Homo sapiens: one gene and its partners. The protein of the gene in region 3 purifies or fractionates together with the protein of the main gene of each other region. This does not show direct contact. Each region holds a gene or a part of one and is shown on either strand. Other genes may lie near its edges. The genes, in order: PGAP6, SEMA4F, TMPRSS11B, DCBLD2, NPC2, POMGNT1 and SLC31A1.

What was found.
Region 1: the proteins of TMPRSS11B (region 3) and PGAP6 purify together in Homo sapiens (affinity purification with mass spectrometry; 2 studies listed by BioGRID and IntAct, with this or other methods). This does not show direct contact.
Region 2: the proteins of TMPRSS11B (region 3) and SEMA4F purify together in Homo sapiens (affinity purification with mass spectrometry; 2 studies listed by BioGRID and IntAct, with this or other methods). This does not show direct contact.
Region 4: the proteins of TMPRSS11B (region 3) and DCBLD2 purify together in Homo sapiens (affinity purification with mass spectrometry; 2 studies listed by BioGRID and IntAct, with this or other methods). This does not show direct contact.
Region 5: the proteins of TMPRSS11B (region 3) and NPC2 purify together in Homo sapiens (affinity purification with mass spectrometry; 2 studies listed by BioGRID and IntAct, with this or other methods). This does not show direct contact.
Region 6: the proteins of TMPRSS11B (region 3) and POMGNT1 purify together in Homo sapiens (affinity purification with mass spectrometry; 2 studies listed by BioGRID and IntAct, with this or other methods). This does not show direct contact.
Region 7: the proteins of TMPRSS11B (region 3) and SLC31A1 purify together in Homo sapiens (affinity purification with mass spectrometry; 2 studies listed by BioGRID and IntAct, with this or other methods). This does not show direct contact.

The regions. Positions count from the first base shown.
Region 1 is NC_000016.10:375,479-378,978, reverse strand, and holds part of PGAP6 (post-GPI attachment to proteins factor 6 precursor), read left to right. Parts: intron 1-1,130; coding exon 1,131-1,308; intron 1,309-1,393; coding exon 1,394-1,601; intron 1,602-1,814; coding exon 1,815-1,942; intron 1,943-2,166; coding exon 2,167-2,435; intron 2,436-2,523; coding exon 2,524-2,843; intron 2,844-3,500. UniProt on the Homo sapiens protein: Involved in the lipid remodeling steps of GPI-anchor maturation. Lipid remodeling steps consist in the generation of 2 saturated fatty chains at the sn-2 position of GPI-anchor proteins (GPI-AP).
Region 2 is NC_000002.12:74,674,747-74,678,246, reverse strand, and holds part of SEMA4F (semaphorin-4F isoform 1 precursor), read right to left. Parts: intron 3,360-3,500; coding exon 3,212-3,359; intron 3,086-3,211; coding exon 2,863-3,085; intron 2,723-2,862; coding exon 2,613-2,722; intron 2,499-2,612; coding exon 2,338-2,498; intron 1-2,337. UniProt on the Homo sapiens protein: Probable cell surface receptor that regulates oligodendroglial precursor cell migration. Might also regulate differentiation of oligodendroglial precursor cells. Has growth cone collapse activity against retinal ganglion-cell axons.
Region 3 is NC_000004.12:68,228,695-68,232,194, reverse strand, and holds part of TMPRSS11B (transmembrane protease serine 11B), read left to right. Parts: intron 1-814; coding exon 815-992; intron 993-2,678; coding exon 2,679-2,938; intron 2,939-3,310; coding exon 3,311-3,453; intron 3,454-3,500. UniProt on the Homo sapiens protein: Serine protease.
Region 4 is NC_000003.12:98,807,696-98,811,195, forward strand, and holds part of DCBLD2 (discoidin, CUB and LCCL domain-containing protein 2 precursor), read right to left. Parts: coding exon 3,499-3,500; intron 480-3,498; coding exon 386-479; intron 1-385.
Region 5 is NC_000014.9:74,486,806-74,490,305, reverse strand, and holds part of NPC2 (NPC intracellular cholesterol transporter 2 isoform 2 precursor), read left to right. Parts: intron 1-3,500. UniProt on the Homo sapiens protein: Intracellular cholesterol transporter which acts in concert with NPC1 and plays an important role in the egress of cholesterol from the lysosomal compartment.
Region 6 is NC_000001.11:46,191,935-46,195,434, reverse strand, and holds part of POMGNT1 (protein O-linked-mannose beta-1,2-N-acetylglucosaminyltransferase 1), read left to right. Parts: intron 1-473; coding exon 474-591; intron 592-783; coding exon 784-882; intron 883-1,033; coding exon 1,034-1,161; intron 1,162-1,509; coding exon 1,510-1,580; intron 1,581-1,795; coding exon 1,796-1,871; intron 1,872-2,046; coding exon 2,047-2,130; intron 2,131-2,219; coding exon 2,220-2,261; intron 2,262-2,476; coding exon 2,477-2,535; intron 2,536-2,844; coding exon 2,845-2,917; intron 2,918-2,998; coding exon 2,999-3,127; intron 3,128-3,211; coding exon 3,212-3,337; intron 3,338-3,500. UniProt on the Homo sapiens protein: Participates in O-mannosyl glycosylation by catalyzing the addition of N-acetylglucosamine to O-linked mannose on glycoproteins.
Region 7 is NC_000009.12:113,256,044-113,259,543, forward strand, and holds part of SLC31A1 (high affinity copper uptake protein 1), read left to right. Parts: intron 1-70; 5' UTR 71-105; coding exon 106-234; intron 235-411; exon of another isoform or gene 412-560; intron 561-1,069; coding exon 1,070-1,142; intron 1,143-2,650; coding exon 2,651-2,819; intron 2,820-3,500.

The DNA of each region.
Region 1 (3,500 bases), on a different chromosome or scaffold from region 3:
ACGGGGGGCTGGGGGTGAGAGCCTGAGTCCTCGCCTGGGGCCATGAGCAGGATGTCTCCCACGGGCCCTTCTCCATCCCCGCACCAGGCGTGGGTGCGTTCCCTGAGGACAGTTAGGAGCCTTGCCCGCTTGGAACGCAGAGGGCAGCTGTCCCCTTGTTCTCATGACTGGCCAGGCTTCTGGCCTGGGTCCCTCCCACATGCAGTATCTCCCTCTGGGTAAGGGGAATTTGGGCTCCGGTCTCGCCGTGTCCAAAGTCATCATAGCCCAAGCAGGCAGCCAACCCATCCAGGGATGGAGATGTGGGAGGCTGAGAGGAGGTGGGAGGACCGTGCCTTGATATCCAGGGCATCTGTGATGAGGGGCGGGGGCTCCTTCCTGACACCTGCTGGGTCCTTCGGCTTCGACCTGGGTTGGCCATGGGGAGTGTAGTCTTCTAAGGTTGGAGGGGGTCCGGGTGGCAGTGCGGGTGGGGATGGCAGTCAGAGTGGCGATGGCAGTGCGGGTGGCGATGGCAGTGTGGGTGGCGATGGCAGTGCGGGTGGGGATGGCAGTGTGGGTGGCGATGGCAGTGCGGGTGGCGATGGCAGTCAGGGTGGCGATGGCAGTGCGGGTGGGGATGGCAGTCAGAGTGGCGATGGCAGTGCGGGTGGCGATGGCAGTGCGGGTGGCGATGGCAGTGCGGGTGGCGATGGCAGTGTGGGTGGGGATGGCAGTGCGGGTGGGGATGGCAGTGCGGGTGGCGATGGCAGTCAGGGTGGCGATGGCAGTCAGGGTGGCGATGGCAGTGCGGGTGGGGATGGCAGTGCGGGTGGCGATGGCAGTCAGGGTGGCGATGGCTGCTGAGGTACCCTGCGGCTTGTTTGGAAGCTGCTGCAGTGAGGCGGCAGCTGTGAAAAGACCCAGATGCCAGGAGGGTGGGATGTAGGCCATCTGGGGAGGGACAGCAGAGGATCTGGCTGAGGGGCCAGAGGGTGTCGGTGACCTTTGCCAAGGTCAGAGTTGGTGTGCCAAGATCTCCAGGTGGGTCCCCGGGGGCTTCCAGCCCTTTCCATCTGGGGGACTCGTCCTCCCCATCTGCGGCCCTGGAGGAGGGTCCCGGCCTGGCTGACACCTCCTTCTCCTCACAGAGGTGGGGCTGGTGTCCGAGCACTTCTCGCAGGCCCCGCAGAGGCTGTCCTTCTACAGCTGGTACGGCAGTGCCAGGCTCTTCCGCTTCCGCGTGCCCCCAGATGCTGTGCTTCTACGCTGGCTCCTGCAGGTCTCCCGGGAGAGCGGCGCTGCCTGCACCGACGCGGAGATCACCGTGTAGGTGGCTGCCCGCCCGCCTGCCCACCCTCCCGCGCCTGGCCAAGCCCTGTGCCTGAACCCGGTGCTGCTCTCCCGTCTCCAGGCACTTCCGTTCCGGCGCCCCTCCGGTCATCAACCCGCTGGGCACCAGCTTCCCGGACGACACCGCGGTACAGCCCTCCTTCCAGGTCGGGGTGCCGCTGAGCACCACACCGAGAAGCAATGCCTCCGTCAACGTTTCCCACCCGGCCCCCGGGGACTGGTTCGTGGCCGCCCACCTGCCCCCCTCATCCCAGAAGATCGAGTTGAAGGTGAGGGGGGCTGCCCTCCGGGATGGAGGCAGAGAACCTTGCGGCGATGGCCTGTCCCTGCCGTTCACCTCTTTGGGGTGGTCCTCGCTCTAGGCTCCACGCTGCACTCTGGGGCCAGCCCTGCTCCCTGCATGCCGGGGGCGTCTGGTGAGACCATGCCCTCACACCTGCATTCTCTGACACCGCCCCCGCCCACACCTGTTCTTTCCCTAGGGCTTGGCTCCCACCTGTGCCTACGTCTTCCAGCCTGAACTGCTGGTCACGCGGGTGGTCGAGATTTCCATCATGGAGCCGGACGTGCCCCTTCCTCAGACCCTCCTCTCCCATCCCAGCTACCTCAAGTGAGCGGGGGCCTGGGGGGCAGCCCGGCTCTGCCCTCCGGCCCCTTCTCAGATTCGGTGGAGTGGGTGCGAGAGCCTGGCCCTGAGTCCTGGGGTTGGGCTGGGAAGTGGTCCAGATGCCTGGCCCCCACCAGAGTGGGCTGAGGAACAGCAGAGCCTGGGCACGCTGCGTCCCTGGGCTGAGGAATGGCAGAGCCTGAGCCAGCTGTGTCCCCTCGCTGCAGGGTCTTTGTCCCCGATTACACGCGGGAGCTTCTGCTGGAGCTGCGGGACTGCGTGTCCAATGGGAGCCTGGGCTGCCCCGTGCGTCTCACCGTGGGCCCGGTCACCCTGCCTAGCAACTTCCAGAAGGTGCTCACCTGCACCGGTGCCCCCTGGCCCTGCCGCCTGCTGCTGCCCTCACCGCCCTGGGACCGGTGGCTGCAAGTGACAGCTGAGAGCCTGGTGGGGCCCCTCGGGACAGTGGCTTTCAGTGCTGTAGCTGCCCTCACAGGTGGGCCGCACAAGGGCTGGAGGGATGGCCCTGCCCCTCCCCAGATCCCCAGACTTTCCTCCAGCCAAACCCCTTGTCCTCTCGGCAGCTTGCAGGCCACGGAGCGTGACCATCCAGCCCCTTCTGCAGAGCAGCCAAAACCAGAGCTTCAATGCCTCCTCTGGTCTGCTGTCCCCGAGCCCCGACCACCAGGACCTGGGCAGGAGTGGCAGGGTGGACCGCAGCCCCTTCTGCCTCACAAACTACCCAGTCACGCGGGAGGACATGGACGTGGTGTCGGTGCACTTCCAGCCCCTGGACAGGGTCTCGGTGAGGGTGTGTTCGGACACGCCCTCCGTGATGCGGCTGCGCCTGAACACCGGCATGGACAGCGGGGGTTCCCTCACCATCTCCCTGCGGGCCAACAAGGTACCTGCTGTCTGCAAGCGGCCTGTGGCCTGGGCTCGGGCAGGGCGCCGGGCAACCCCTGCAGCGCCTCCTCATTTACCTTGGCACGGGACAGGCGGCACAGTGACACCAGCAGGCACGGGCCAAGACAGGGGCCCATGTTGGGGGGCCTCCCCTGCTGGGCAGCCTTGTTCCTGTCAACAGGCCCCGGGGCTGTGGGGTAGCTCGGGTCAGAGGTGGGGTGGAGGCAGGATGTCCCAGGGCCCGGGGAGGAAGGTCCCGGTGCACCGTGGGCCTGCAGGAGTCTCAGAGAAAGGCACCAGCACCGGCCGGGCGCGGTGGCTCACGCCTGTAATCCCAGCACTTTGGGAGGCCGAGGAGGGTGGATCACGAGGTCAGGAGATTGGGACCATCCTGGCTAACACGGTGAAACCCCGTCTCTACTGAAAATACAAAAATTAGCCGGGCGTGGTGGCGGGCGCCTGTAGTCCCAGCTACTCGGGAGGCTGAGGCGGGAGAATGGCATGAACCCAGGGGCGGAGGTTGCAGTGAGCCGAGATCGCGGCACTGCCCTCCAGCCTGGGCGACAGAGCAAGACTCCATCTCAGAAAAAAAAAAAAAAAGAAAGGCACCAGCACCAGGCTGAGCTGGCACGTGGGGCAGATGACCCCACTGCGG
Region 2 (3,500 bases), on a different chromosome or scaffold from region 3:
ACTCATGTATACCTTAAGGGAATCCTTGAGGCTCAAGTATAGAGGATATCTAAGACCAGTGAATTCTTATTTTAATGGAAATTAAAACAATAAAGGACAGAATAAAGCCCTTGCTTTTCTCTTAGATGTTTAAAAGTTCTCCCCCAAAAAACTAAAAGACCAGGTTAAAGTTCTTAACCAAAAATGCAAAGCTGGCCAAGCCTGTCATCCAAGAGTTACTTTATATCCCCAACTGGCAAAAAGTCAAGAATCTGATCAAGAGACGGCATAAGATTTTACACTTATAATTCATGACAAATATCAGAAAAACAAAATTAAATGTTATGACTATTCTAATTATATGCCAGTTTTTTCTTTCATATCTAGCCCTACAGATCAGTTACCATTTTAAACATTTCACTCTGTTTTGACATGTGTGAATTAATCTGTTTTATTCCAAAAGACAAGTACTTTTACCTCTACAGAATTTGTAGCCATGGGGTTTTGTAATATTCTGGATTTTGTATATACTTGAGGTTCTGTAGTATACAAATATGCTATAAATTAACTGGACTTCAAAATAGGAAATCTCAAGGTCAGTTTGCAAAAACACTTTCGAATCAAGTGATTAAAAATACTTTACTGGAAGATCTCAACAATTAAAATACACTTAAGAAACATATCAACCAATTACAATTAATAAGCATTATTTGGATACTGACATAAACTTTTTAAAATATATGCAATTGAAGAAATCAGAACACTGACTGGATATTTGATGACATTAAGAAAGTAAGTTTTTGGTATGATAATGGTAATATGGTTTTTTTTTAAAGCCCTTGTATGTTAGAGATACGGACAGAAAGATTTATGGATGAAGTGAAATGATGTCCAGGATTTGCATCAAAGTAGTTGGGAATGAGTAAACGTACTGATGAGGCAAGATTGACCAGGAGCTGATGGTTGTTGAAGCTGAGGGATGGATGCATGGAAATTCATTATACAATTCTCTCTACTTTTGGATATGATTGAACTTTCCCACAATAAAATGTTTTTAAGAGTCCTGGGCTGGGCGCAGTGGCTCACACCTGTAATCCCAGCACTTTGGGAGGCCAAGGCAAGTGGATTGCTTGAGGTCAGGAGTTCCAGACCAGCCTGGCCAACGTAGTGAAACCCCGTCTCTACCAAAAATACAAAAATCAGCCGGGCATGGTGGCGGGCACCTGTAATCCCAGCTATTCGGGAGGCTGAGGCAGGAGAATCGCTTGAATAAGGGAGGCAGAGGTTGCAGTGAGCCGAGATGGCGTCACTGTACCCCAGCCTGGGCGACAGAGTGAGACTCCATCTCAAAAACAACAAACAAACAAACAAAAAACTCCTTATCTAGTAGAGATACATATTGAAATATTTAAGATGAATATGATATAATGTCAGGGATTTGCTTCAACGTGACATATGCTTTTAAGCTGCTAAATGGAAAATGGATGGTAGGAGCCCAAAATGGTCAAAAAAAGACCAATTAGGTTATTAGAGTAGTCCAGTTAAGAAGCGATGATGGCTTGGACTAGAGTGGTAGTGGTAGAGGTGGACAGAAGAGGGTGGACTAAGGACATTTGGGTGCTAGAATCAGTACAAATCATAATACGATGTGGGCAATTTCTGGCTTGAGCAACTGGATGCATGGAGGTCCCTTTACTGGAATGAGGAAGACCAGAGGAGGAGCATGTGAGAGAAAGAGGAAACAACAGTGCATACTTTGACTTGCTAAGTTTGAGTTGCTTATGAAGCATCCAAGGGAATATCAAGTAGACAGTCGGATGGGGAGTTCCACAGCTCAACTAGATATATTTGTGGTTGTCATTAGCACTCAGATGGTATTGAAAGTAACCAGAATGAAACTGCCTAGAGAGTGCATGAACGTGTGAAGAGAATGGGTCCAGGACTGAACCCTGAGGAATATCAACATTCAGTTGTTGGATGGGAAAGTAAAGGAGACCAAAGAATGCAGTCATAGAGAGCAAGAGGAAAGTATTTCAAGGAAAGAGGGAGTGGACAACTGTGAAAACACTTCCAAGAGCTCTTGTAAGATGAAAACTAAGCAGCATCCACTAGAGATGGCACACTGTCAGGTCAAGGCAGGTCCAGCAGAGAGGCAAGGACATTGATGAGGTAGCACTAGATGGACAAACAGATGAGCTAGTATGGACTGACAGAAGGACACACGAGTGATGTAGACACTAACAGACAGAAAAAGAAAACAGCCTCCGGCAGGGCAGCATTAACAGATGAGAAACGTAGACATATGGATGGGACAGAGCCCTGGCACAGTAAGCAAGAAATCCAGGCAGCTACACTCACCCTCGGTGCTCCCCGGCATGGGCCACACACTCATCCAGCCGGAAGCTCCAGGCACAGACTGGGTCCTGGGCCAGGATGCACTCTGAGCAGCTCTGGAGACGGCCACAGTTGGTTGTATTCACTTGTGTCACCTCAGTACGGGAGCCAACCAGGAGCCAGCTCTATAAAAACGGAGTGGGGAAGGGGAATACACTGGATCTCCCAGACCTCAGGGTCACAAACTGGCTCTGGACTCAGATGTCTCCCCAATAGACTCTCCAAAATCTACAACTCACGTGGTACAATTTCATGTTCTCAACTGGCTGTGGCTCTGGGAATAAGGCCAGATCTTCAAGAACGCTGAGCTGAGCTCCGATCCGCACTGCTCGGTGGAGGTGTCCATCCTCTAGGGGACAGGAAAGGAACAAGAATAATTACATAATTGCCCCTGTGCCTGGGACTCAGACCTATATGTATTACAGTACCCTCTCTGTGACGAGAATGTGTATGCACTAGGTAGGCAGCCTGCTTGACCATTAAATATACCTGTCCCCAGGTAGAGCACATCATACTCTTTCCCTGAGAGGCTGGTCACCCTGTGGGCCACGACTCTGAGATAGGCTGTATCTGTAGTGACCAGCAGGGGGTGGCCATCAGCTGGAAACACTGGCCTGTCCATGAGTGGGTGGTCCCGGATGAAGGTGAGTACGCGGTCAGGCAGGGAGAGAGATGAGCCAAAGTGCCGGAGCTTCATGTTGTTGGTGATGCACTAGAGGAAATACAGGGCTGGTGACAAAGTTTCCCAGGAACAGGACATGCCAGTGATGCTTAGTGGGGCTCTTGCCTTAATAGCAGCTCTTGACTTCAGGCCTAGAATGAAGATCTGCCCCCTCACCTCTCCAGGTCTGGGCTGGGGCACATCATTGTCCACGACAGGCAGTCCTCTGTTGCAGTCATGTTTTAGTTCTCTGAAGGGACCATTCAGCACTGTCCGAATGTCTTGTGGTCGGAAGGCACAGACAGCAGAGATAGTAGCCCCCTCCCTGGAATTCACAGGTTGGAGCTGGATATATGGAGGGGTCTGGGGGATAGCAACTCATCCCTTGTCAAATGAGATGACCCCCGAGAAACGCACAGGGAGCCATGCAGCCAAAGGCGGGAGAGCCTGCCCCCTCTGGAAGAGA
Region 3 (3,500 bases):
ATTTATTAAAAAATATATAAAAAGTTAAATGAAAATTGATTCCAAATAATAAAACTGTGAGTGAAAAATATCATATTTGAATATGTTAAAATGAGAAAGATTGAAGGAAATGACAATTTAGGATAAGAAGAAAATATAAAACCAGGCTATATAAAATATATTTATTAAAGATAAAAACAGTTCTGCATCTTAAAAATTATTATTATTTTTTGCTTTAGAGGTGGGATGTTGCTATGTTGTGTGGGCTGGAGTGCAATTCACAGGTGCAATTACAGTGGACTATAGCCTGGAACTCTTGGGCTCAAGCAGTCCTCCTGCCTCAGCCTCCCAAGTAGCTGGGCCTATAGGAGCATATCGCTGTCCTGTTACATCTTTTAAATAAATTCTCTTTAGAGTATCATGTTTTCCACAAGATACATTTATGCATTCATTCACTCCATGGATATTTATGGAGTATCTTTTGTTCACATGGTGTCTTACAGACAGCAGTGCATATACTATGCAAGATGTAGACACCAATGAGGCAAAGCTCCTCCTTCAAGAATCTGCTTAGAGAGACAAGAGTTATAACACATAGACACAACAAAAAATAGTGGTTGAAAGATGCTTGAGACTGGAAAAGAGGATAAGTAAGAACCACTCAAACCAAGATAGAATACAGAAACATCACAGGAGTATCTTGTAGGAAAGAAACGTCATCAATTAGGAGAAGTTGAATAATCACTGAAAGGTTTCAAGTAATTTTTAATGATATATTTTTTTATAATGCGTAATCAAAGATACCTGCTCTCGTGTAAATAAATCCTTTCTCTAGGTTGTGGGAGACAAGTAGCCAACAGTATCATAACTGGCAACAAAATTGTGAATGGAAAAAGCTCCCTGGAGGGGGCATGGCCATGGCAGGCCAGCATGCAATGGAAAGGCCGTCACTACTGTGGAGCCTCTCTGATCAGCAGCAGGTGGCTATTATCTGCAGCTCACTGCTTTGCTAAGTAAGTTTGAAAATTTGACTAAATGAAGGATGCTAGGTGCAAAACTATTTTGGATAGTTTGTAGGGGTTAACTTAATGTGTCAAGGTTCACCAAGGCCATATGAAATTTACAATCACATAGAACATTTACAATCACCTGCGTAATTAAAGAGCAGGAAAGGAAATGCATTTAAATTAGAGAAAGGAGAGAAAAGCAAATAGAAGTATTAATTAACATTTTCCAAATAGGTACCTTGGCCTGACATTAAGTGCTTTACTTAACATCATTTCATTTAATCACAACATTCAATTCTGTATGGAAGGTATAGTTAAAACCATTTGAAGATGAGGAAACTAAGTCTCACTCAGGAAAGGTGACAAAACTTGGCTAAGATCACTCAGCTCTTTTTTTTTTTTTTTGAGATGGAGTCTCAATCTGTTGCCCAGGTTGGAGTGCAATGGTGCGATCTCAGCTCACTGCAAACTCTGCCTCCTGGGTTTAAGCGATTCTCCTGTCTCAGCCTCCTGAGTAGCTGGGATTACAGGCACGCACCACTATGTCCAGCTAATTCTTGTATTTTTAGTAGAGACGGGGTTTTACCATGTTAGTCAGGCTGGTCTCGAACTCCTGACCTTAAGTGATCCGCCTGCCTCAGCCTCCCAAAGTGCTGGGATTACAGGTGCGAGCCACCATGCCCAGCCTAGTTCTTAAATAATAGAAACTGAATGTGAATTCAAGTGTGTCTGACTCCAGTTACTAGGTGCTTCCTTGTCTTGCCATCCAGAAGTTTATAATCTAGTTGAGAAAATTTAAATGTCATATATTAAAAGTACGAGGCTGTATAGTATTGTAAACATGACACGTATTACAAAGATAGTAAGTACGATGGAAATTTGAAGAAAGACAGCATATCCATCTGACGTAAAATTTAATCTGGACCCAAAAATTGAGTATATCCAAAGGAAGATAAATTGTTCTACCAAAAAGCCATATGCACTTGTATGTACACCACAGCTCACAATAGCAAAAACATGAAATCAACCTAGATGCCCAGCAACGGTGAACTGGATAAAGAAAATATGGGTCATATACACCATGGAATACTATCCAGTCATAAAAAAGAATAAAATCATGGCCTTTGCAGGAACATGGATGCAGTTGCAGGCTATTATCCAAACTAAATGAATTAATGCTGGAACAGAAAACTAAATACCACATCTTCTTGCTTATAAGTGGGAGCTAAACACTGAGTACATATGGATACAAGGAGGGGAACAATAGACATTAGGGCCTACTTGAGGGTGGTAGAAGGGTGAGGGTAAAAAAAGTAGCTATTGAAACCAAGGGTATGTGGCAATAAGACTAATCCTGGACCCCATCCACTTACGGAATTGAGGACGCTCATGTGATTCCTGACCAAATTAAATGTTCAGAAACTGGATGGAACTGAATAAGCAGGGGAAAACATCAGTGACTCTACTTGAAAAGATCTTCAGAAAGCTGACAAATCTGAGTCCTTAGCATTATTTTTAAGTGACTGCAACATTTACAACAGCTCCATGTCAAAGATAGTTTTCAAAATAGAATTTCAGTGGTTTATAGTTTTGTTTGGGAACCTCATGCCTTAAAATTATGAGATAATCACCACTAAGAACAGTGTTGTGACCCAGCAACTGAGTGTATTCTAATTACATTGTGTCCTCTAGGAAAAATAATTCAAAAGATTGGACTGTCAACTTTGGAATTGTAGTAAATAAACCATATATGACACGGAAAGTCCAAAACATTATTTTTCATGAAAATTATAGCAGTCCTGGGCTTCATGATGATATTGCCCTTGTGCAGCTTGCTGAAGAAGTTTCTTTTACAGAGTACATTCGTAAGATTTGTCTTCCTGAAGCCAAAATGAAGCTCTCAGAAAATGACAATGTTGTAGTTACAGGTTGGGGAACACTTTATATGAATGGTAAGTTTTTTTGTAAAATCATAATAGCTGCATGGGAATAACTATTTAATCAATCAATCAATCAATCAATCAATCATCCCCTCATGCAATTAATCAATCAGTAAATATACTGAAAAGAAAACCAAGTGGTGGGACAAAAAGCATGATGTCAAATTGTCTTCACTTCCTAAAATATCTCTGGGAATGGGAATTGGAAAAATTGAAATTATGTGTTAGGCAGCCAACTATTACAAACACCTGAAAGAGACTAATCTAACCTGGGACTGGCCTGACTCTTGGTGACCAAGAGAGTCTGCTTTATGCTATAGGTAGATATTCTTTGTCCCAGCAAAGTCTAAGATCTGCATAATATGCAGCACTTATTGCTTTTAGGTTCATTTCCAGTGATACTTCAAGAAGACTTTTTGAAGATTATTGACAACAAAATTTGCAATGCCTCATATGCATACTCTGGCTTTGTGACTGATACAATGTTATGTGCTGGATTTATGTCAGGAGAAGCTGATGCATGTCAGGTATGTCTAGTTACATTATCCAGTTGTTTTCTCCCAGTTAATCAAAT
Region 4 (3,500 bases), on a different chromosome or scaffold from region 3:
AAAAACTTCAGTTAATTCTCATGGTTCATAACTCATCAAACCACATGATATAGTTCCTTGTTAGTCAACCCTGCTAAACACTTCAGAGAAAGGAATTGTGTCTCATTCTTTAAGTAAATGTAACTATCATGTGTCAGAAATTGTTCATATTAATGTACATATCCCAGTGTATAATGCAGAACTTGATACAAAAAAGGTACTTAGTAACTGATTGTGGAATTGAACTTATTTATTTTTAATGGGAATAAAGGAGAAGCATGAAATTTTCATTTTAATAATTACCTTAACTCTCACTCTCAAACAGGTAAACATTTTCATCTTCTATATTTAGCTTCTACTTCACATTTGGTAGTTTTGGACTCAGGTGAACTAGTTATGTACTAACCTGTTTCTCCAGTGCCAAGCACACACTAATATGAGAATGAGAGTAGTGAGGACCATGACCAGCACAGGGACAAGAACTGCAGCCAGCGCTACATCTGAAGTTACAAAGACAAAAACAGACAAACAAAAGCCATATTAACACCAAAGGCAGAAATCACTAGGGAAAATTAACCACATCATCTTTCAACATTTTTCTACCTCACGGAAATACCATAAACATTATTTGTCAAGACTGGGCATGTGGTGGTAACTGTAGAAGCTTTTGCAGATACACAAAAGCTTGTTACACTATTCATTCCATCTGTGTAGAGATGTGAAATTTTCCTAAATTTTTAAATCACTAAAATAAAATTGAAAGACAAATGAAAAATTGGGAAAATATATTTTCTACATATGAGAAGAGTTACTTTAAATAATTATTATATTGTAGGGCATTACAAGCCAAATCCAAACATTTAAGAGAAAAATCAGCAGAGATTAACTAGTAATACATTAAAAAATACAAGTAACCATTAAATATGTTAACTTCACTAGTAATCAAAGAAATACAAGTTAAACAACCAACACAAAAAAAGTTAAAACAACAAAATACTACTTTTGCTAATCAAAGTGGCAAATATTTAAAACAACAACTAATTGATGAACAGGCTACCAGGAAACAGTTATTTTTTAATGGAAATATAAACTGATGCTATCTCACTGATTGGCATTTTTGGGCAATATGTACAAAAATCTATTGGCAATTCCATTCCTAGAATTTATTCTCAGAAACTAAAAAAAGATGCATCCTTAAAGATGTTCTCCCTGTTTCTGCGTAAGAGTGAAAAATTGGAAATAATCCAAATGCCCAAAAATGAGAGGGAATAAATCATGGTATCCTCCTTACAAGAGAAAATAATCCAGCAATTGAAATGACGTTACATCATAATGGCAAAACATTCATATATATATATATGGGAAGGTAACAATGTGGTGTTAAGAAAGTCAATTGGAAATGTGTGTGTGACCAGGTCAGAAGCCAGCATAATGCTGGAACTGGGAGAGATTTAGGGATCATTTAATCCCCTAATTTCACTCCAGAGATAAGGAATTCTGGGCCCAGATATAGAAAATGATCTGCCTAAGGTCACTTGGGATATTAGTTTCTTCCTTTGTCGCTCAACCCCCTACTTGCCATGAAGATGATAATAGCAGCACCTGCTGATATTTACTGGGGGCTCAGAGCCGGACACTGCAATGAGTCTAACCTGCACCATCTTCTTTATTCCTTAAAACAACTGTATCCAAAAGAGAGAAAGAGGCTGAAGATACAGGAGGGGGAGAGGATAATCAGTAAGATTGGGTCCCTGAGAGGTAGATCGAGGGGAACCAGGGCACAGGTGATATAATCAGCCTTGGGCAACATAAGGAAGCCCCCTTTTCACTGCAGTGAACAGAGGATACAGATAGGTTTGTAGGCTCCACAAAAAGGGAGTTTCACTGGAAGGAAACTCCCTACTTTCTCTGTGAAGTTGGAGCGGTAACTGAGAGTGGGTGAAGATATCTGGGTGAAGGGCTTGAAAATAAGGGGAATATGTAAAATAGCTACAGTTGAGAACAGACAGAAGAGCTACTGCAGCCTTTCAGAAGGTCAGCCAGCTGGTGCCACGGGCCCCACTGAGGGAGGACCTGGAAACTACAGAGGCACAAATCTGACCATGACATAATCTTTTCCATGAAATCACTCTCAGCCTGGCTGTAAAAATGGAGAAGTCCATAAACAGAAATAATGACTTAGACTAGAAAGCACTCAGAATTCACAACGGTAAATGTGCTTTTTCCATAAGATTAGTGAGACAAGAGAAGATAATCAAGTTTAGATGGATGCTGTGTGATTTAATCAGAGGCTTTAAAACATCTTCTTAGGTTCAAAAAATAAATTTATATACTACCATCCCCCTAAAAAAGAGACAGGAGGTCTCTGAGAAGACCAACTCATTCTTTGTTATTCTTTTTGGGCATACAGGGATCCTAATTCTGGAAGGAAATTATTTAAGGACTCTTTTTAGCCTTGAGGGTCTGAGATGCAATCAGATTTTAAGATGAGCAACACTTTTCAGTGACTGATCTCCATCCAGGCATGTGGTCTGGGATTCTGCCTTAGTACATGCCTTCTGACAACTGGTAAGCAGTTAAAAGATGCTGAGATCTCCTGCCTCTGAGAACCCTTGATTCTCTCTAGCTGTACCTGCAGCATGAGAAAGTAATTCATCTTTGTGAAAATACTTCAGAAGATGGGAAAGAACCAACATGGGGAAAGTCAGAGAAAGTTATCTGAATCCAGGCAAACTTTCAAAAAATGAGAATGACTGAAGTTCTATGTGGCACAAATTACTTTGGATGAACGGCTTTCTCTCTCTGCACTTTCCTGAAAACAAGGAAGCTTTTTATGTGACAACTCTGATACTTAGTCTACTATGACACTGACACTTTTTTGAATTCAATTGAAATTTTGTTTTTCAACAACTAGTAAGACTACTATGTTTTATGTATTTTGAGACCTTATTTATCACTGATAACAAAACTTGAAAGTAAATTCTAATAAATTTCTATTTATGATCTTAAAAAATATAATTGCAAACACTTAAAAAGAGACCAAAGTTTTTTTTTATGAATATGTTAACTATGAGTATTTTTTAACAATTACTAGTTTCTACTAAAAGTTCTGTTTTTATTTTCCCCTTTTTGCCATCAAGTTCCCTATCCATCAAATTAATATATTATCAAGGGAAACAAGTTTGTTTCCTGCTATGATTTCAGTTATTTCTAGAAAATATTGTATTTCTAAGCCTGAGAGTCAACATGTTTAGCTGTAAGGAACAATAAATCACAAGAGGAGGCCTGCAACACAGTGGCCTTCTCTAAATATTTAAAGAGCAATTCTACATGGCAGCAGAGACTACAACTTAGATCAATGCAGTCTTTTCCTATGAAAGAAAATAAATTTTTTTTTTTGCTATACTTAAAAACTATAGTTGGAAGAAAATAAACTGAAGGTTTAAAAATGCCCGTGAAAACTTCAGTTAAGAACAAAACAATACTATGTACTAGGCGTTCATTTCCATGTTTGCATACCT
Region 5 (3,500 bases), on a different chromosome or scaffold from region 3:
GTGTTGGTCAGTGTGATGATAGTTAAAGAGACTGTTCCACCCAAGGGTAGGTACAGGCAGCAAAGAACATCTACTTAGATTTCTGAGTTCATATCATACTTTTATAGTACTGAGCTAATCTGGTGACTGACTGCATAGCAGATAATGTACTCTCAACCTGCAGTTTGCCTCTGTCTTCATGCATTCCACTTTTGAGACAGAAAGAGTCCATCCTATTGGCTAGAAACATAATTTCTATCCACAAAGTATATTTGAGGTGAGAGGTCCAGTTTTTGTGTCAGAAGGGAACTTGCTAACCTACCCAGGAGCAGCTATTCTAGATTAAACTCATGGACTAAATCCAGATATGATAATAATAGTAAATATATGTATCACTATGTTCCAAACACTTACCTAAGATCTGTATTTGTGTTAGCTCAGCTACACCATTATCTCCAGAGAGGTAAAGTATCTTGCCTTGAGGCTATACAGTAAGTAGCAGAGATAGTGAGATTTCAAACCCAGGCATCCGGCACCAGAGTCTGCCTCTCAGCAATGATGGCTGAATGGCAGAACTTAACTTACCCTGTTACAGGCACTGTTATCAGGCAGTTCACCTGCATTCTCTCCCATTCAACTGCCCAGTCTCTGGGGCAGGAGGAAATGGGATTTTTAAAGGCTTTATTTAAACCTTTTTTGGTCAAGCATTTATTGTATACAAGTACTTTTGTCCTTGGTTAGACTGAGATTAAAATACATACATACACACACAGACACACACACACACACTTATTTTAAGAACGCAGGTTCCCAAAATCGAGTATACATCTGTAGATTGCAGATGTGTGCTTAAAATCAGTTTTTGAAACTACTTAGAAACAACCTGGACAAGTCAGATGAATCCAATTTCTTTTCTTAAATTTTTTAATTTTGAAAAATATGTATTTGTTTTGAGGATTCCCAGGGATAAATCCTATTTCTGACTCTTTCTAGTACCTTCTTAGGTCTCATCCTTATGTTTTTAACATATGCAGTATTTGCAAGTGTATCATTCCCAGCAGCTATATAGACCTAGGCCAAGTTAATATTTCAGAGGAAATGAAACCCAGACTCAGGTAGCAGTATTCTTCTTTAATGCAGCTGGCACTTCTGCCATCTTGGCTGTGTGAGTCAGTGCTATTTGGAGTTAAGCTTAACTTGTGCCCTAAGCTTGTACTGAAACTATAAAGACCTTAACCTCTGTACTCCTCTTCATCCCCTTGATTCTTGGAAAAAATCCAGATCTTAACAACCTTAGTCAAGATTTAAGGTACTTCCTGTTGTTTTTGGAGCCAAAATATTTCATGACTCATAAGTGGGCCTTAAAGAACAGGACTAAATCATTGAAGAAACTGCAGAAGTGCAGTGAAAATGGTGCAGTTCCCAATTCAGAAGTGGGAGGTAGTTCCTCTCTTAAGGGTCATTCCTAGTTCAGAGATGGTAGGTGGTTTTTCTGTTTAGGGTCACTCCTCTGTTCAGTGTTAAGTGGTAGTTCCTCTTAAATTCCATAGTCTGCTTACTCGGAAGTGAGTAGGCTTCTGGAATCAGTCTTATTTTATTTTATTTTATTTTTTGAGACAGAGTCTTGCTCTGTCACCCAGGCTGGAGTGCAGTGGCGCAATCTCGGCTCACTGCAACCTCTGCCTCCCCAGTTCAAGCGATTCTCCTGCCTCAGCCTCCTGAGTAGCTGGGATTACAGGTGAGCACCACCATACCTGGCTAATTTTTGTATTTTTATTAGAGACGAGGTTTCACCATGTTGGTCAGGCTGGTCTCGAACTCTTAACCTCTTGATCCACCTGCCTTGGCCTCCCAAAGTGCTGGGATTATAGGCATGAGCCACCATGCCCACCCTTGAATCAGCCTAATTTTAAAAGCCAAGACTGATATTCTGACACTTTTCATCGTTTTACCTATACCTTTAATAGTGCTGCTTATTTCTCTAGGAAGTCAAGTTGGGGTGAAAGAAAGAAGGGATTCCAGGAAGACAAAATACTGGGCAAAGGATTTACCAGCAGTTTGGGAGAAAGGGTACAAAATCTGGATAGAAGATACTTCATCACTGAAAATCACAGAGGATATAGGGGTTGAACCTCTACGATAGAAAGAGAATCATGGTGAGGGGCAAAGAGGCGATGCTGAATTAAGAAACCTGAAAAGTTGAGTTTGAGACAGACCTTCATCCAGAGTCCTCAAGTAGTTCTCAGATGCAAATTTCCTTGGGGTGTCCTTCCATTCATCAACATGGCTGCGTATTTAAAGCTTCTTTCAGGTTCCGGTAACAAGGGCTTCCAAGTCAGGCCCACCCATTGAGTCTTCGATCTGCCCCTTCCAGGCAATGTGACCTTGGACAAATCTCAGTAATCTTTGCTCTTCTGGTTTCTAACCCCTAAAACAAGGATGATAAATACCATTGTTGTGAGATGTTTTCTTCAGATGCCTCTGCTTTCCTTCATTCTTGCTAGTCAAGGTACAATTTCCATAGAGTCTAAAAATGAATGATTCAGGAACTAAAAACTCTTGAAGCCAGATTCAAGAAAGGTTCAGTCTGTTTTGGGATCTGGCAGACTTTCCAAGCAATAATAGCAGACTCCCTCAATCAGTGTTTGCTCATGTAGAACTTGAGGTAGAAAGATGTTGTAATTCATTTCTGATCTTCCTCCGCGGAGTTTCAGGCTCTACATTTGCTTTCTAGCTGTTTCCGCATAAAGTGCGGTTTTTGGCCAGGTGCGGTGGCTCATGCCTGTAATCCCAGGACTTTGGGAGGCCAAGGTGGGCAAATTGCTTGAGCCTAGGAGTTTGAGACCAGCCTGGGCAACATGGTGAAACCCTGTCTCTACAAAACACAAAAATTAGCCGGGTGTGGTGGTGCATGCCTATTGTTCTAGCTACTCAGGAGGATGGAGTAGGAGGATCACTTGAGCCTGGGACGGTTGAGGCTGCAGTGAGCTGAGATTGTGCCATTGCATCTAGCCTGGGTGACAGAGTGAGACCCTGTCTCAAAAAAAAAAAACAAAAAAAAACCACAAAAACAAAACAGGGAGGGTGCAATGACTCACGCCTGTAATCCTAGCACTTTGGGAGGCCTAGGCAGGCAGACCACGAGGTCAGGAGATCAAGACCATCCTGGCCAACATAGTGAAACCCTGTCTCTACTAAAATACAAAAACTTAGCCGGGCATGATGGCACTCGCCTGTAGTCCCAGCTACTCAGGAGGCTGAGGCAGGGAATGGTTTGAACCCGGGGGGTGGAGGTTGCAGTGAGCTGAGACTGTGCCACTGCACTCCAACCTGGTGACAGAGCAAGACTCCATCTCAAAAAAAAAAAAAATGTAGTTGTTCCTGTAGTGAACAACTTTCATCAGATTTACATGCTAATCTATATGCTAGAAAAAGAAAGGGAAAATAGGAATATTTTCATCCAAAGGAAGGTTGAAGCAAACGTCTTCAAGGTTTAAGTTTAAACTGTGACCCTTACCATT
Region 6 (3,500 bases), on a different chromosome or scaffold from region 3:
TAGAAAGAGAAGGCCCCTGCAAGGAGATGATATGTGAGCAGAAAGCTGAGGAATTGAGGAGTGAGCCAGGTGAGTATCTGGAGGAAGAGCATTCCAGGTGGAAAGAATGGCAAGTGCAAAGCCCCTATAGTGGGAAGGTACACGGCATATTTGAGGAACAGCAAAGATGCTAGTCGAGGTGGAGCAGAATAAGGGAGGAGAGTAGGAGAGTGGTTGGAAAAGAAGGCAGAGAGTGGCGGGAGAGAGAGGTGCAGATCGTGTGGGTTTGTGGAAAGGACTTATTAGCTGGATGACCTTAGAATCTCTAAGCCTTCAGTTATTATTTTATCTGTGAAAGAGAGTAACCATAGAGGGTTATTGCAATAATGTAATGAGCTATTTTAAGTAAAAGGTTGCTACATAGTTCGTGCTCTGTGAGGCCAGGTCTCCTGGAACCATGCCAGTCAGGCTAACTGCCTTCTCTGGTCCCCCAGGATGAGGGCTCCTTCCACCTCAAGGACACAGCCAAGGCTCTGCTGAGGAGCCTGGGCAGCCAGGCTGGCCCTGCCCTGGGCTGGAGGGACACATGGGCCTTCGTGGGACGAAAAGGAGGTGCCGGCATCAGAGGCCATCCACTCTGTAGTATCAAGAGCCTGGGAGGAGCAGAACCCTAGGAGATGGGGTGGGGTGGGGAACAAATAGGAGCCAGTGGCAGTGGGTTGGATGAAAGTAGGCAGGGAGATGGGAAAAAGCCCCCAAACTGGTGTCTGGGCCCCCATGGCCCTCATTCCTGCCTCCTGCCAGGTCCTGTCTTCGGGGAGAAACATTCTAAATCACCTGCCCTCTCTTCCTGGGGGGACCCAGTCCTGCTGAAGACAGATGTGCCATTGAGCTCAGCAGAAGGTGGAGTTAGTGGAGCATGGATGGGGCAGGGCCTGGGCTGGGGGTGGGCATTTAGATCTCTCTGTGGAGCTTTATTCCTTTGATTGTGTGCCTGGGGCTCTTCAAACCTTGCTGGCCCCATGCCTCCATGACAACCGCATCCTTCCCTCAGAGGCAGAGTGCCACTGGGCAGACACAGAGCTGAACCGTCGCCGCCGGCGCTTCTGCAGCAAAGTTGAGGGCTATGGAAGTGTATGCAGCTGCAAGGACCCCACACCCATCGAGTTCAGCCCTGACCCAGTGAGTGGGGCCTTAAGACAGTGAGGTTTGGACTCCTTCCCAGCTCAGCAGGGGGGCCCCAGGAATGATCTAGGTTGGGCTTTCCCTACCTGAGCCTGGGAGAGAACCAGGGGCAGGATTTACACTGCGCTCTGAAAGACAGGGCTGGGGTGAAGGGGCAGGCCATGTGAGTAAAGCTCAGCGCTAGAGTTGGGCTGAGTGTGTGGAGAGCCCAGAACAGGGAAGATCCTCTATCCCTTCCCTGTCTACTCCAGTCTGCACCTACCCTCACCTGAGAAGTCTTCCCTAGGTGGGGATCCCAGTTTGAAGGGGGAATAAGGCAAGAGCTAAACGCTATTTCTCCCACAGCTCCCAGACAACAAGGTCCTCAATGTGCCTGTGGCTGTCATTGCAGGGAACCGACCCAATTACCTGTACAGGTAAGCCTGGGAATGGGCTATACCCAGCACTGAACAGGAGGGTGCTTAGGTCATCTACCTCCAGGAGGAACTCTTGAGGTGGGCAGAAAGGCAATAGATTCTAGACGCATTCACCTCTGTGGGTAAGCATAGGGACTCTGGGCCCAGCTGTAAACACAGGGGAACCTGAGTTGAGGGGTGATGAAGTGACCCTAACCTATCCCTGGGCTCCCCAGGATGCTGCGCTCTCTGCTTTCAGCCCAGGGGGTGTCTCCTCAGATGATAACAGTTTTCATTGACGGCTACTATGAGGTGAGCAGGACTTGGGGGGTGCCTCGGGTGGAGTACAACATGGAGCAGCAGTGATTGCCAGGGACGGGCAAGGGAGACCGCCCAGGCAAGGGCTGTGAAATGTGAAGGCCTTGGATTGCAGAGGTGGGCAGAGGGAAAGTGACCTCACATGGTGAGCAGTGGCCATGTCCCCCAGGAACCCATGGATGTGGTGGCACTGTTTGGTCTGAGGGGCATCCAGCATACTCCCATCAGCATCAAGAATGCCCGCGTGTCTCAGGTACTGCATAGGCAAGTGGGGATGGGGCAGACACCTGGCTCTGCCTTCTACCCTAAAGCTCATGTGCCCTATTCCCACCCCACTCCCAGCACTACAAGGCCAGCCTCACTGCCACTTTCAACCTGTTTCCGGTGAGTACTAAGGATACAACTCTTGGGCCTGGGAGGGGGGAAACATGGGCATAAGGTCTGGGCCTGTTACGTGGCAAGCTCTTCCCCTCACTGGGCCTCATCCTTCACATCTGGAAAATGGGGGTAATGCTGCCTGCAAGAAGAGGGTTGGGGGCAAAGGAGATCACAGGATGGAGAGACCCCTTTGGGACCATGATGTCCCATTCCCCTTCTAGGAGGCCAAGTTTGCTGTGGTTCTGGAAGAGGACCTGGACATTGCTGTGGATTTTTTCAGGTGAGGGGAGTCTCTAGGTTTCAGTTGAGGTCCCTCAGTCTGCAGGGAAAGAGTCAGTGAGGTGTCCTAGAGAGCTTTCTGGAGGACATGAGCTCACAAGTGGGGGCGAAGCCTGGGCAAAGGTAGGATGGCAGGTGTTGGGGCTGCTGTTGAAGGTACAGTGGATGAATGGAGACAGTGGGGATTTGGGGGAAGGAGGTACTCCAGGAAGGAGGTGCTCCTGAGACCCAGCTCCAGCAATTCTAGCATCTCTGTGTGACTAGATTTATCCTTGTCCCTCCCTGAACTCTTTGACCCTGCCTCTCTCAGTTTCCTGAGCCAATCCATCCACCTACTGGAGGAGGATGACAGCCTGTACTGCATCTCTGCCTGGAATGACCAGGTAGGCTGGAATGACCAGGGTTTAGCAGGCGAGTTTATGAGGCCTCAGCTAATACCTCCCACTATGGCACCCTGTCCCCAGGGGTATGAACACACGGCTGAGGACCCAGCACTACTGTACCGTGTGGAGACCATGCCTGGGCTGGGCTGGGTGCTCAGGAGGTCCTTGTACAAGGAGGAGCTTGAGCCCAAGTGGCCTACACCGGAAAAGGTAACTGTCAGGGTAGGGTGAGGGGGCTGGAGTCCCCTACCAACTCGAAACATCTTAACCTTCATCGTGGTCCATGTCTGCCAGCTCTGGGATTGGGACATGTGGATGCGGATGCCTGAACAACGCCGGGGCCGAGAGTGCATCATCCCTGACGTTTCCCGATCCTACCACTTTGGCATCGTCGGCCTCAACATGAATGGCTACTTTCACGTGAGTGGGAGGCAGGGAGCAGGGCACAGTGTGGCATGACAGTCAAGAACAAGAACATGGACTCTGAAGCAATCTTAGCTCTGCTACTTGCTAGCCATGTAACCTTGGGGAAAGAGCTATCCTATTTTTGCCTCAGTTTCTTTATCTGAAAAATGAGGATAAA
Region 7 (3,500 bases), on a different chromosome or scaffold from region 3:
CTAAAAATAAAAAAAAGAGATAAGATTTTTATATCCTTAAATTATTATATATAATTCTTTCTCTTAAAAGAATCTTCTGCTGACTCTCAACTTTTCCTGGAAAAAATGGATCATTCCCACCATATGGGGATGAGCTATATGGACTCCAACAGTACCATGCAACCTTCTCACCATCACCCAACCACTTCAGCCTCACACTCCCATGGTGGAGGAGACAGCAGCATGATGATGATGGTGAGTGCCATAGGAGGGGCAATGCAGGCCCTTTCCCACCCACTTGGGTAATAGAAATAATGGAATTTTAGTACTGGAAGCTTATTATCTTTAAAGGTCAGTTTACCAGTGAGGATAACTAAAGCAGACCCAAGCAAGTCAAGTCATTTGCTCCAGATTATGTGGCAAGCTACTTACAGAGTCACACCAGAACCAAGATTTTAGGCTTCTTTCTTTGGTGGTCCCTTCTGAAATCGACTCTTTTCTGAATTAGGGGTTCTGGTCTTTATGCCTTGGGTGGAAAAGAGAAAAAGACAAAAGTTGGCCAGGCACAGTGGCTCATGCCTGTAATCCCAACACTTTGGGAGGCCAAGGCAGGTGGATCACAAGGTCAGGAGATCGAGACCATCCTAGCTAACACGGTGAAACCCCATCTCTACTAAAAATACAAAAAATTAGCTGGGCATGATGGCATTCGCCTGTAGTCCCAGCTACTTGGGAGGCTGAGGCAGGAGAATCGCTTGAACCCAGGAGGTGGAGGTTGTAGTGAGCCGAGATCTCGCCACTGCATTCCAGCCTGGGCTACAGAGCGAGAATCCGTATCAAAAAAAAAAAAAAAAAAGATAAAAGTTGATGGTGGGGGCCCAGGAGAAAAGTTGATGGTGGGGGCCTAGTAGAATACTCATGCTCGGTGCCTGTGGTGGTAACGCTAACATGAGGGCAAAAGCCTCCCACTCACGTGAATGTCTCTTATTATCCAGATCTTCTACTTTTAAATGTTCTAAGCTTCTTTGCCCCAAATTCTCATTTAGAATTTTCATTCATCTCTAACTGACTTGTTTTGGTTTTCTGGCAGCCTATGACCTTCTACTTTGGCTTTAAGAATGTGGAACTACTGTTTTCCGGTTTGGTGATCAATACAGCTGGAGGTGAGTAAGCCATTAGGTAGTGTTGGAAGGTGATAGTCACATGAGAGACAGTGACAAATAATTTGGAAGTCCAGCACCTCTTTCTGTCCTAATTACTAAGTCAACATGGTAATGATGCATAACCATCTTGGTTCCTATTTCCTACCTAGAAGGTAGGAAACACAGTACTTTTTTGGTCCTCTGGTAAACCTCTGTTAACTAACATGTATGTTTTGGAGCTCTAAAAAATAATTTAGATACCAGATAGAATCTTTTGCAATCCATTTTCTTTCATTCTTTTCCAGAGTGTTTAATTTTTTTTTTTTTTTTTTTTTTTGAGACGGAGTTTCACTCTTGTCACCCAGGCTGGAGTGCAATGGCAGCTATCTTGGCTCACTGCAATCTCTGCCTCCCAGGTTCAAGCGATTCTCCTGCCTCAGCCTCCTGAGTAGCTGGAGTTAAACAGGCACCTACCGCCATGCCTGGCTAATTTTTGTATTTTTAATAGAGACGGGGTTTTGCCATGTTTGCCAGGCTGGTCTCGAACTCCTCACCTCAAGTGATCCACCCACCTCAGCCTCCCAAAGTGCTGGGATTACAGGCATGAGCCACCATGCCCGGCCTCAGAGTGTTTACTTATTTGATAAGTTATTAGTCCTGGACATAAGACTAACTCAAATTAAGTACCACAAAATAAGTTTAAAACTATTGTTCTAATACTTCAATTTTACAATAAATTAAGTGCCACAAATTGTGAAATGACTCGCCATCAATCATAGAGTTAATATGTCAGAGCTAGGACAAGGACCCAGACCTTCTAGAGCTACCTAGACCAGTGTTCTTTTAGTCTACCAAACTATGGCCCACATCCTTCCTGATTCTTGGCACGGCCCATCTTAGACACTCCTAGTTTTGAGGTAGATGATTACCCATCTGTTTGTGTCTATTATGTTGTATGGTATACTTTAAATTTAACTTGCGCAAACTCAATAGTCAGTTGGACTGCCTTAGGTACCAGATGTCTGTTTGGAGCCATAAAATCAATTTGTTTTGGGAAGAAGGAGAGCATTTAGTTCAGGTAATGTGTTAAATTAGCAGTTTGAATACATTTATATCATTACCAACACTTCACAGTGTGAAAGACTTAGAATTGAAATGCCTATTCAGGAAATGTAGTCAGCCACTGATGAAACTAAATTGTTTTATTCCCTGTTCCATATTCTACATTGTGTGTTTCAGTGTAACAAACCTAATTTAATGATATCAAGCAGTCTGACCAAAAGGTTATTGTTGTTCTGATTATTTTTCTTATCTTAATCAGAAAGTAAATATGTTCTTGGCAGAGGCAATAGTTTTCAGTTACACCATCTTAGCCGTTCTCCTATCTGAGCAAGAGAAGAGGTAAAAATATAATGTCTTCAAAAGCTGAGAGTAGCATTTTTTCTATGTGTCTTTCTAGCTGGACAGCACATTGGCTAATGATTTTGCACATGTTTGACAGTACCTCCATATTTTCCTTCCATACTTAGAAATGGCTGGAGCTTTTGTGGCAGTGTTTTTACTAGCAATGTTCTATGAAGGACTCAAGATAGCCCGAGAGAGCCTGCTGCGTAAGTCACAAGTCAGCATTCGCTACAATTCCATGCCTGTCCCAGGACCAAATGGAACCATCCTTATGGAGACACACAAAACTGTTGGGTAAGAACTGAACAGATCCAGATGAAGTCCTAAAGAACTCGATCAGTTAAGCAGCAAAGCGCAGCTGTGTGATCAGCAGCAGCCCTCTTCTTGAGTTAGGAGTTCTGTATGACCTTGATCAAAACTGTCCTTGGAGGTTTGGGTTTGTAGGTCATGAGCAGGCCAAAGGAGGAATGAGAGGGAGTCTTCTGCAAATATGAATGTTTGTTCTGAGTTGTACGGATTGGCCACTTTGGAAGAAGGGAAGTGAGGAATCCATATTTTAAAATATTTACCAAAATAATAATGAACAAGTTAAGAAATTCAGATCAAGATATAAAAGAATGGCAGATTGCAGTTGATTCTATAAAGTTACACCTAGTCAGCCCTGTCCTCTTTTTCTTTACAATGTAAGACTGTATTGATTTCTGTGTTCTGTCTAAGAAAGTATTTGGATGATTATTGGTTTTTCCCATAGATTGGCAAATGTTTTTTGAGATTGTTTTAATAAAAATGTAAGTCTTAAAACCAAATTGGACCTTAAGAAATCCTATAGACTGATATCCTGCTTTCAAACAAGCAGTGTTATTTATTGTACTGATGAGCTTACTGGGGCCCAGAAGGATTGTGACCTACCTAAGGTGGCACAGGGGATGAGTAGCCAGGTCTCCTTATCCCTAATTAAGTAATTTCTTCTATACT